Linked DNA regions of Homo sapiens: region 2 is linked to region 1. The links come from fine-mapping of genetic effects on gene expression. A gene starts in region 1. The other region holds a variant in brackets. All regions are shown on one strand. Distances are between the middles of the regions.

Region 1 (5,378 bases):
GGGTCATCCAAATAAGACAGAACCGCTCCAGTATGCCTGCACCGTGGCCACGATACCTTCAAAGTACTGTCTATGTACCAATTTCTGTTGAGGAAACAAGGTACAAAGAAACTCCCATATGGATACTAGCAGGATTTGCTAGTGTCTGGGGAAGATTATAAATTAGCTAGTTGCTGCTCACATCAGAGCCAAGCAGGGCACATTCAGTTTTTTAATCTGGACCAATTTTCCGGATCAAAAACTAGTCTTTCCAAGGGATGTAAATGAGCCCAGGAGGGAAATTTCCCCTGAAGTTATGAAGTAGCTGTCATTTTAATCTGAGAAGCTTTCCAACCTGAAAGCTAGTGTCTGGATAAAATTATAAAGTAATAAAAATAAAACTCTTCTAGGTTGAACCTAGTCTAAACACTTCTATCTCAAATTTGATGTAATTAATATGCCAAAGTATTTAAGAGGTGGTGTTTCCACTATCAAAACCCTATCTATGCTTCAAATAAAACCAAAGAGGCCAGCATGGCATATTCCTGGCATGAATATCAGAATGAGACCCTGAATGAACCAGGTAGAAAATCTTTTTAGGAGAAGAACTCCAAAAAATAAGAAGGAAAATATGATGACCCACATGAGCAGTTTTATACAACAGGTTTTTATAAAATGCTTTTTAAAAATTCCCCTTAAATGGATTAAAATATATCCTTTAAAAAGCATTGCATACACTGTTCATGCTTTAAAACTATAGATATAACTATGCTTTGTTTAAAAATTGTGACAATTAATAGATGATTTCATGTGAATAAATCTGCAAAATGCAATTGATCGTGATGTGGTTATCTTAAGGAGGAAAGTTAGAAAGAAGCCCTTCACTGAAATCCTTGAAGGTATATGTATGTGTGCGTGCAGGAAGAGAAACAATTTAATGTGATATTACCTTGGACTGAAGCTATTATCTCCAAAATGAATTGAAGAGCTCATAAATGGAGTGGCTCATAATTTAAATATGGTGTAGATTATGATAATGACCTTAGATTTCAAGGCAGGTAACAAGTGCTGGTAATAAGAGACACAGTGCAAAGACTGAGGACGCTTCCAGAGCCGAAATGCAACAAGTCATATTTCCAGATAGAGAGTTTCAATGCGAAAATATTTAAGCATTCACATGGGATCCCGCTAAGACGATTTTCTCTGCCCTCTGATAAATTTTCCTAGCTTTGCCTCTTTCTTACAGAAACGTTTGTGAAGACAAACTGCACTTTCTGTGAGGTTTTGCAGACTGCATTCAAATAAAAGTAATATTGTTTTCCATTGTTCATAAGATATAATTAATCCCATAAGACAACCTCCCTTACAAAGTAAGTTAAGACAAAACAGATTTTTCAGAATTCTAAATATGGTCCCAGCAAAAAGTAATAAAAATCGTTATTTGGGAAACAATGTTTAGAACTTCATTGTTCAGAATGTTCTACTTTGAATAATCTCACAGCATAGGCCAAATCAAAGTAGACCAAAATAAACGAAGACTTTTTACCTATATGCAGCTAGAGGAAACACACGTTATTATGGTTTCAAGTTCTCCCCCAATTCCCAGTCCCTTATAACAGGTTACAACGTACATTTCTTTGTTTAAATGCCAAAGCAAAGACAGGAGTTCAAAACACGGTAAAATTAACCCACTGGGTGCTTCCTTCTGAACAAATGGCCCCAGAGTGGAAGAGGATGCTAAGAGCAGAGTCCACATCCCTGCACAACGCGTGGGCAGGACCCGAGATGGGCAGAGGGGGCTCCAGGCAACCCTTCAGACACTTAACAGGAAATGGCTGGGCTCTGGACAATATGAATTGAGTAAAATGTTTGGAGACGCAGGAGGGGCTGGTTTGACTCCTCTGCATGGTTGCCATCCTCTGTAATTGAGACAGCACGATCGCTGTCCCAACTGTCAGCTCTCTGCGGTCAAACACGGGGACCACCACCTCTATCTACTATGTCTGGAAAATTGATCATTCTTTTAATAAATAAATATCCCTAGCGCCGCCCGGGCTCGGGGGAGGGCGAGGTTTGCGTCTTTTCTCAGCTCCTGGCAGAGCTGAAGCGAGTTAAGCAGACGTTGGTCGGGGAGAGGGAGGCGGTGCGCTGCCCGCTCTGTGTCCTCGCCCCGGAGCCCAGCAGGGGCGCTCGGGGCGTGGTGGCTCTGGGCGGAGGAGCGCATTACCTGGTTTTCGGATGGCCGCTCGGAGCGACACCGCGCCGGGTCCGAGGCTGGAAGCCAGGAGCAGGAGCCGGAGCAAGACGCCTCGGATTAAATCCATTTCGCAGCCGGCGCCTGCAAAGTTTCACCAAGTCCCGGGCGCACACGGAAAGGGCGTCTCCGGGGGCGCGTGGGGGACGCGGCCCCAACGGATCCCCGGGCCGGGGCGAGGAGGTGGGGGGCTGCGAGGGCTGGGCCCGGAAACACGGGTAGTTCCAAGAGGTAGGACTGCAGCCGGGAGGTCGGCGTGCGCGAGTGAAGCCGGCTGCAAGCTGCAGGGCTTTTCGCGGGGGCGGGGGCGACGAAGGAGGCCGACTGGGAGGGAAGGGCTGGCCGCGGGAGGGAGGGAGGCTCGACCGGCCCGGGGATGAAATTACAATCGAGTGGAAGTGAGAGGGACAGGCCCTGAAACCTTCACTCCTCGCCCACCTCGGAAGCAGACAGCCCGCCCCTCACCCTCTCTAGCGACCCCCAGCGCAGCCCTTCCCCGCTGGTGACCTAGATTGGGGACCTGGGAGGGACCGACTTCAAGCACTGGAGACGCAGGGCAGGAGTTAGGCGACTGCGGGTCCAGGACCCTCCGCGGTCCTCACCCTGAAATCTTGGGGCGCCCCCCCTCCACCCCACCTGGGCCCTCCTCCTGCCGCGCCCCTCTAGGCGACTTTTTCTAACACCTCAAAGGTTGCTGTAGTTGGTCCAGCGCACTTGGGGGATGCGAGGGGTAGACGGGGGTCTGTGATTTGCAAGTGGGGTGGGGGTGAGAGGAAGAGAGGCGGGACCGTCCGGGTCTGAGGCGCTAAGAAGATAAATGGGATTTAAGGCTCGCAGATGGAGAGCTGAGGCCAGGCCGCTCAGACTGGGACGCCGGGTGGAGATTAGGGCCTGGAGCGGGGGAGTGGGGGCCCTTCCCGGCAGAGGAAGGCAACTTGAGACCCTCCTGGGGAGGAGATGAAACTCCAAGTTAAGCCTGGCGTCTTAGGGAGGGACGCGAGCTCGAGCCCCCAGGCGGACCGAGAAAAGCCCCTGGGCGGCGCCCAGCTGGGCCTGGGGCAGGGGGCCGGGGCGGGGTCCTGGCCTCTGATCCCGGGATCGGGCTTCCTGGGTTGTCTCCTGAATGGAGAAAGACTCTTTCTCCGCCGCTGAATTTGCTGCCCTAGGACTCAGTAAAATGTACCTTTTGCCAGATTTCGCGGTAGTGCCTGGAGAGGGGAGACCCTGCCTGGGACACAAGTCCCGTTGCATACTGGCGTTCTGACCTCCAAACCAGCGAGAAGAGAAAGCAGATACAATAAATAAACCAAGAGGGAATAAACTTAGAGGCAAACGCGGCCCTCGGCAGTTCCTGGGGAAAGATCAAAGGCCGTAGGAAGTGCCCCGCAGAGGAAATCTGCAGTCACTAGCGACAGGACCGCGCCCGCCCCCTCCCCACCTTGCAACGCTGCCAGGACTCGGTGGGCGTCCTGGCTCTTCACAGTTAGCCTATGTTTGGGAGCGCGGGAGGAAACAATGTTGACTGATATATTCTTCTCCCCTCCCCAGCCCCCCAAACACACACACACAGGATTTCTACTCCTCTTTTAAGAATGAAATATCCCCTGGCTGGAGAGTTTGTAATGAGCTCAATCTTGTTAGTTAGCAAAGCTGAGTGTGTTCCCTTATGTGTTGGCATTTTCAAGTGTGCAATTGTCTGTTCACAAATAAATTCAAAGTCCCCTCCAACTTGAGTATTTGGAAGTTTTAGCTGTGACACCAGAGCTTGTCCTCTTACATAGAACTGGAGCAAAGTTCAGACAGAACTATGCTCTTCACGTCCAAGGTGACCATAAAGCCGGCCACTAAGCTAAGCAAAGTGACTGCCCCCAAGGCTGCTAGTCTCAAAGGTCTCAAAATCATAGACTTTTTAGCATTTTAAAGGTCATCTAGGCCATGCCTCCACTCCACGCAGGAGTCTGCTTTCAGCATTGGTGTCGGGTCGTGCCACCTCCCTTTGAACTCCACCTGTGTGAGAGAGCTCCTCCAGCGCCAGCTGAGAAGTTGTTAGAGGCCTTTCTTTATGCGAAAGTGATTTCTTATCTCGGACTTAATGTGGCACCCAGAACCAAGCGAGTGTTGCAATGCAGATGCCTCCCATGCAGGCTTTCCTACTTAAAAATGATTCTCTGTGATGCTGAAACTGGAAGTAATAATAATCGTTGATATTATGGCTACCATTTATTTAAGGTCTCCTATGTACCAGACCTTCTTTGAAGTGCATTTTAATCCCAATAACAACCATACCAGGAAGATACTGTCATTACTATTCTCGCCTTTTACAGGTGAGGAACCTGAAGCATGGGAAGGTTAAGAAACTTGCCCAAGGTCATGCAGCTCCCATGCAGCGCTTGAATCCAAGGGGTCTGATTCCAGCTTTCAGGCTTTTGAGAGAACAATGTGGAAAGTAAACACAGCAGTGGACTGAGAGGATCGGGAGATGTGGGTGTTTAATCCTAGGCTCTGCGTATAGTGTGCCTTGGTAAAAATGAATGGGCTGGACGAAACAATCAGTAAATTCCAGGTTTTGCTTTCTCTTTAATAGCTGATAAAACAGCATCATCTAATCTAAGCTACCTTTACTCTGCATGTGCCTTTTAACAGACCCTGTGCAAATTGTCCACTGCAAATTTCGCAAGCCTGGGCAGCCTTCTTGCCAATGTCCTCCTCATGTGCCCACACCACCTCGGCATCCCTGGCCCTGGGCCTCCCTTCCATTTTTTTGCAGATGACCATAGGCGATTTGGGAAATAGGCTTGGTTTCTTCAGAGACCCCTCTTGTTTTTTCCTTGGGGAAAAACAACATTAGATTATACTGTTGTATTTTTACCTCTGAGGGCCTGCAAACACTCTGGATCATCAGGCCATTGAGATAAGACCTTATTTCACAAAATCTGCTTCAAATCTAGAGCACATGTTACATTAAACTTATTCCCTTCCTTTGCAGTTCAAATCGCATCCTCCAAGGGAACTGGAAGATTCCCTCTCCTTCCAGTTTGAAAACCAACTATGGCATTTGTAAATCTGACTAAAGACAAATAGAACACTTGCCTTTCACTCTCTTCCTGCTTTCTGAGAGGAGGGGAACTAAAGAGGGGCCAAGAGG
Region 2 (5,378 bases), 200 kb before region 1:
CCCTGGATCAGGGGTAACTAGGATGCCAGGCAAAGTTGGGGAACAGGACAGTGGGACTACAAGGGAACTGGACACCACATCCCACCACTGCTCAGCTCTGGCTCTGCCTCATGCTGCGGGAGGGACTCACCTAACGGCCTTAACTCGGTGCCACCGACCATCGTTGAAGGAGCCATTCACCATGATGGATGCCACACCACTGCCCAGGTTATAGCTAAGGCATTGGAGAAGAAGAAGACAGAGAACAGAATAAAACACTGAGGCATAAGCAGACACGGTTCACAGACGATTCTCAGGGCAAAAGTTCTTTGCAACTCAGAGTGCAGTTTCCTTAACAAAAAACAAGAGTGTTATAAAAGTTGTTGGGTTTCTAGGCTGGTTCATGAAATTAAAAATTATTAAACTTTTAAATTATGGTAAAATATATGTAACATAACCATGGCCATCGTAACCATTTTTAAGCATACAGTGCCGCAGCATTAAGTACATATTCATATTGTTGGGCTGGCAATTTCCAAAACTCATCTTACAAAACAAAAGCATTGCATTAAATAATAACCCCTCATTCTTCCCTCCCCCCAGCCCCTGACAACCAGCCTTCTACCTTCTGACTCTGTGGATTTGATTCTTCTACATACCTCATATGAGTGGCATCATAGAGTATTTGTCTTTTTTGTGACTGTGACTGGCTTACTTCACTTAGCATAATGTTATCAAGATTGTTTTTTAATGCCCTCATGTAAGGCAACATCAGTACTAAAGTATCAGGAATAACAAGAAGGGCTTTATCATGTGTAATGTTTTATACTATGTTACGATGATGGTCTGCCCCCTCCCTCCACCCGCCAAATTCATGTCTACCCAGAGCCTCAGAATGTTACTTATTTGAAAATAGGGTCTTTGCAGATTCATTAGTTAAAATGAAGTCATACTGGATTAGGGCAGCCATGGATCCAATATAACTGGTATCTTTATGAGAAGAGATTTGGACATGGAGCCAGAGACACACAGAGACAGGGAAAGCCATGGGAAACTGGAGGCAGGGACTGGAATGGGGCATCTCCAAGCCAAGGAATGCCAAGGGCTGCCAGCCACCACCAGAACCTGGGGGACAGGCATGGAGCCGATTCTCCCTGAGACCCTCCAGAAGAAGCCAACCCTTGCACTGCATGGTGGATTTCTAGCCTTCAGAACTGTGAGAGAGCCCACTTCTATTGTTTTAAGCCACCTAATTTGTGGTCATGTATTATCAGAGCCCTAAGAAATGAATGCATCTGTTTTCACTTTTTAAAAAAAAATGAACATTGCAGAGTAGGGTGAGCCCCAGAGAGATTAAGGGAATTTGCCTAAAATCACAAACCTAATGTAGAACTTGAACTTGGTGTATCCTCTGCCCTTATCCATTTAACTCTGCTATCAGGTTTCTCTAGTGGCTTCCTATTTTCTATTTCAGTTCCCAGATACCCCGATACCATAAGGGTTTCAGAAAACATGAACATGTTGTTACCAGAGAGAAATATCCCCCTTAATCCAGTGTTCATTCAATTATTCTAATTAAATTTAATTCGACAAATATTTAGTGAGTGACTACTCTAGCCCGGGCACTGGGCCAACTGCCCAGACTTTCCCTGGATAATACAATAAAGCCTAGGCCATCAAGCTTTTGAAGGGAAGTATGTTCCACCTGGGATGACTCCCTCCTCATTTTGTAAGAGGACATATCTCTCCTTCACCTCATTGCCCAAGAGAGAGGGATGTCGAGAGAAAATCTGGATGAGTTAACAAGCACTGGCATGTACTCATTCTGAGAAAACAGCAAGAATAGAAAGTGCTTGGCTTTCTCCAGAGAAAGCACCATAGATCATTCCTTTAATAATGGAGGCTCGAAGAACTCACACAGCCCATTGACATTTAACCAAGAATAGGACTTGGGGTGACTTGACAAACCCTGGGACAAAGCTGCCACTCTGACCCTGAAAAGTCCACTGTTTTCTAATGAGTTTTCCCACATCAAGTACCTCCTTGTATAAAGCAGCCTGGTGGCGGAATTTTGAGATTTCATGATTTGGTGGCTAAATACTTCTTGAATGAATAGGAAGTAGGGCGAGTTGCTGGTGGGCAGAAACTTAGCTGAATTACTATCTATGGCCGTTCTGAGAGGCAGCG[T/C]GGGGTGATAGAAAGAGCACGGACACTCAGATTCAACGGACCTGCCTTGATCCCCAGACTCGCTAGTTAACAGCTCTGTGACCTTGGGCAACTTGCTTCATATTCTCATCTGTCAAACGGGGATAATAATCCCTTCCCTGAAGAATCCTAGGGAATGCTAAGTAACATGACATATGTAGGAAGCACTGCACATCGTAGGAGCCAAATGAAAAATCCCACCACTCCCAACAGAGGCAGCACTTAGTGCAGCTTGGATACGGGGTTGACAATGCACCCCAAGGGACTGGTAGGAAGGAGAAAGTTGCCACCAAGGCTTGAATATGTCACACCTCTTCTGAAGACTAGCCATGTGTGAAAGTAAGCCAACAAGCTGTCAATATATAACCAAAGCAGTCCGGAACACCCAGATCTCAGAATCAAGGTGATCTGGCTGTGTACGTGAAGGGAGGCTGGATTGGAACATGATTGTGGTGCAGTGAATGAAAACCTTTTCAGTTGTCTAAGAGCCCATCTAGACAAAGGGTGCCCTTCCTTCTGTTCTGCAGCCCGACAACTCTCCTGTTCAGGCCAAGAGCTAGAATGTGCTCTAGGGAGTCAACCGTGAACCTGGCAGACAGGAATCCAGCCATCACTGTGGGAGGGGGCAACTCAGTTGGCTTCTCCATGGCCCGATTCCCCAACCCTTCAATTCCATCTGATTTCAGACCCTCCAAAGAACCTCCCGCTTCCTCTGACGTGCTGATACTCACCCTGGAAAAGCTCCCTCGTGTATATAATCATAAATGACCAAGAAGAGTGGTTACCTTCACTGGGAGAAGAATGAGGGAGCATTTTTGGGTGGTGGACATGTTCTATATCTTGTTCTGGGTGACAGTGATTCAGTGTTTACATATTCTAAATGTATCAAGCTCTACACTGAACAGGTGTGCATGGCATGGAAGGTATGCCTCAGTATAAAAATGTAGAAACAAACAGATATAAGAATGTATGTCTAACTTCTCTACCCACGTCTTGGGAACCTGGTTGCCATGATGGGTTATTCTGAGCCACTCAGCTTGGTGTGCACTAGAGGCTGTGAGCCAGAGCACCAAGGTGGGCCACCCGGAAATACCTTCAGGTGAGGCCTTTTGGAAACCACTCGGCCACCTTCCTGCTTTCCTGTGGTGGCACTTTTAATCATGCCCCCTTTAAATTGTAGCACAAGGCACTTTGCTAATGTCAAGTCTCTTCCCCCTCTTCGTTGCATGAAGATGTGATGAGGTGAAACTAAGCGGGCAGTGTTCACTGTGAACAGTCAAGCAATGTTCACAAACCCCACCGGTGGTAGGTTTTATGCCCCACATACAATCACAAAACAAAATGAAACAAAACAAAAACAAAACAGAAAACAGAAAAACACACTCATTTTCACTGAGCACTTTGATTTCCTTATTTTTTCTGCTAAATCTTGCACCAAAACTATAAATATATATACATATATACATTTTTAGAATCCCATTGTTTTTCCCTATTCTCTGGCAGAAAGCCTTTGAGCACTAAATTAGCCAAAGAACCAGCTTTTAGGTAAAGAAAGTCATGAAAGTTGGGACTATATTTTATTATCTTAGGGTTCCTCTTCCATCTGCTTTGAGCCTGGATCAAACACTGAAACCTCAAGAACGATTTGTCTGCTCTGTAGAACAATTCACTCTCCAGACTGCACAGATCTGTGCCCCTTGGGCGCAGGGCCCGTGACTTATTAAAAATAACAATAACAATAATAAAAATAAGAACTACATTTTAATAATAACTACGTGTTCTCTCTCTGAGGTAAAGGCTTCTAAGACTCAGAAAATGCTTGAGCAAGGATCATAATTTTTCTTATCATTATCATTAATTAGCTACACCTGACCCCACACTGAACCCCTTACATGAATTCATTCATTTAATCTTTACAGCGAACCCTGTCGTTTTGCAAGGAGGGGACAGAGGCTGAGATTTAGGTAACTCATGAGCCCACGTGGGGGATCAGGCATGTGTGATTCCAAAGCCACTTCAGACCCTGTTTCTCAGGGCATGGGTCCCGGAAACACCCGGGTGCTTGTTTCTAATCAGACCCGGTGCCCACCACACCGCTGACATCTTCAAACCACTGGCCTACACTGGAATTCCTCTCTGTCCCCAGCCCGCCGGTACGCTTCCCTACATCAGCATCGGGGACATTGATGTGGTGGGATAACAGCCCAGATGGAGGAAGAACAGAGTGGCAGCAATGGGGCGGCTCCAGGACCAGAGCAGGCACAGAAGTCGACCTCGGCCTGGGTTCAGCAGTGTGTCTTACACAGATCACAATCAGAACTCCAGGATTGGAAGAAAAACAGAGGGCCAATTTTCAGAATCCTGAGAAAGAAATGGTAACAAGAAGTATGTTCAGGATAAAGCAGAGCTCTTTGAAGGATCCTAAGCAGGTGGGAGAGGGGAGGGGGCTCTCCAGGGCTGGGCATGGGAGCTGGTGGGAGCTGTTTCCCTACTGGAGTAGAATGGGTGGTGAATAGATTCAGCTGGCAGTTTAGGGGGAAGTTGGACCATCCCACCCACAGCTGAGCTTCTGTTTCGGTTCTCTTTTCTGGGCACAATCAAGTACTTGAGGCCTTGATGAGGTTAACCACAGGAAAACCATAAGAAAATGGCTTCAAGGCAGCCAGCCTGAAATAGGGTGTGAAGAGCTCCGTGTTCAACCTCTGGGCTAGCAATGGGTGGGAGGCTACGGAGGACAGGAAGGCAGAGATGGTGAGAAGCTGCCTCTCACCTGCCAGCATCCAGCCTCAACTACATATGAGTCTCCAAAGTCCCCAACAATCATAAGATGGAGTCACTTAGCATGCTCTGCTATTTAGGGAATAGCATAACATTGGACAAGTGACATTTCCTCTCAAAATGCCTTTTATTCAAACAGAAAGATTTCTGTTATCCTACTTGGGCTGTCAGTAATCTTAGCACAGGACCAACAGAAGCCCCAGAATTAAGTCTTCAGCTTCTCCACTGTTTAGTGATCCCTGCTTTGTCTATTTCAATTCAATTACTTTCATATCATTTAGCAAACACTTGAGCTAGTCATCAGAGGGTGAATTAAGAAGTAGAAGTCCAAGAAATGAGTTCCCCCATGGAACTCAAAGCTTTGAGGGTATCAGAATCGTCTGGGGAAGCGGTTACCACACGGATTGCTGGACCCC

Which allele goes with the higher level. Alleles are on the strand shown, and positions count from the first base shown. SD is a standard deviation of normalised expression in the study named.
As copies of C replace T in region 2, the expression in skeletal muscle of the gene that starts at base 2,499 in region 1 goes down (small effect, 0.30 SD a copy in GTEx).

What was found. PIP is the estimated chance that this variant, and not a neighbour inherited with it, causes the effect.
Region 2: its variant is the best candidate, but not a certain one, in a credible set for the expression of EGFLAM in skeletal muscle (GTEx, PIP 0.87).

The regions. Positions count from the first base shown.
Region 1 is chr5:38,255,680-38,261,057 of GRCh38, reverse strand. It overlaps EGFLAM (EGF like, fibronectin type III and laminin G domains), which reads right to left and starts at 2,499. Exons shown (of 22, transcript NM_152403.4): 1 at 2,207-2,499. The coding sequence starts at 2,303. It overlaps LOC124900966 (a long non-coding RNA gene), which reads left to right and starts at 2,392. Exons shown (of 2, transcript XR_007058739.1): 1 at 2,392-2,464; 2 at 3,427-3,961. RefSeq lists an enhancer at 3,368-3,869.
Region 2 is chr5:38,453,147-38,458,524 of GRCh38, reverse strand. It overlaps EGFLAM (EGF like, fibronectin type III and laminin G domains), which reads right to left. Exons shown (of 22, transcript NM_152403.4): 20 at 131-214. The region is part of intron 1 of EGFLAM-AS5 (EGFLAM antisense RNA 5); the gene reads left to right. Among named protein-coding and RNA genes, the nearest start is that of EGFLAM-AS5, 13 kb to the left of the region's middle. The variant T/C (reference allele first, on the strand shown) is at 2,167.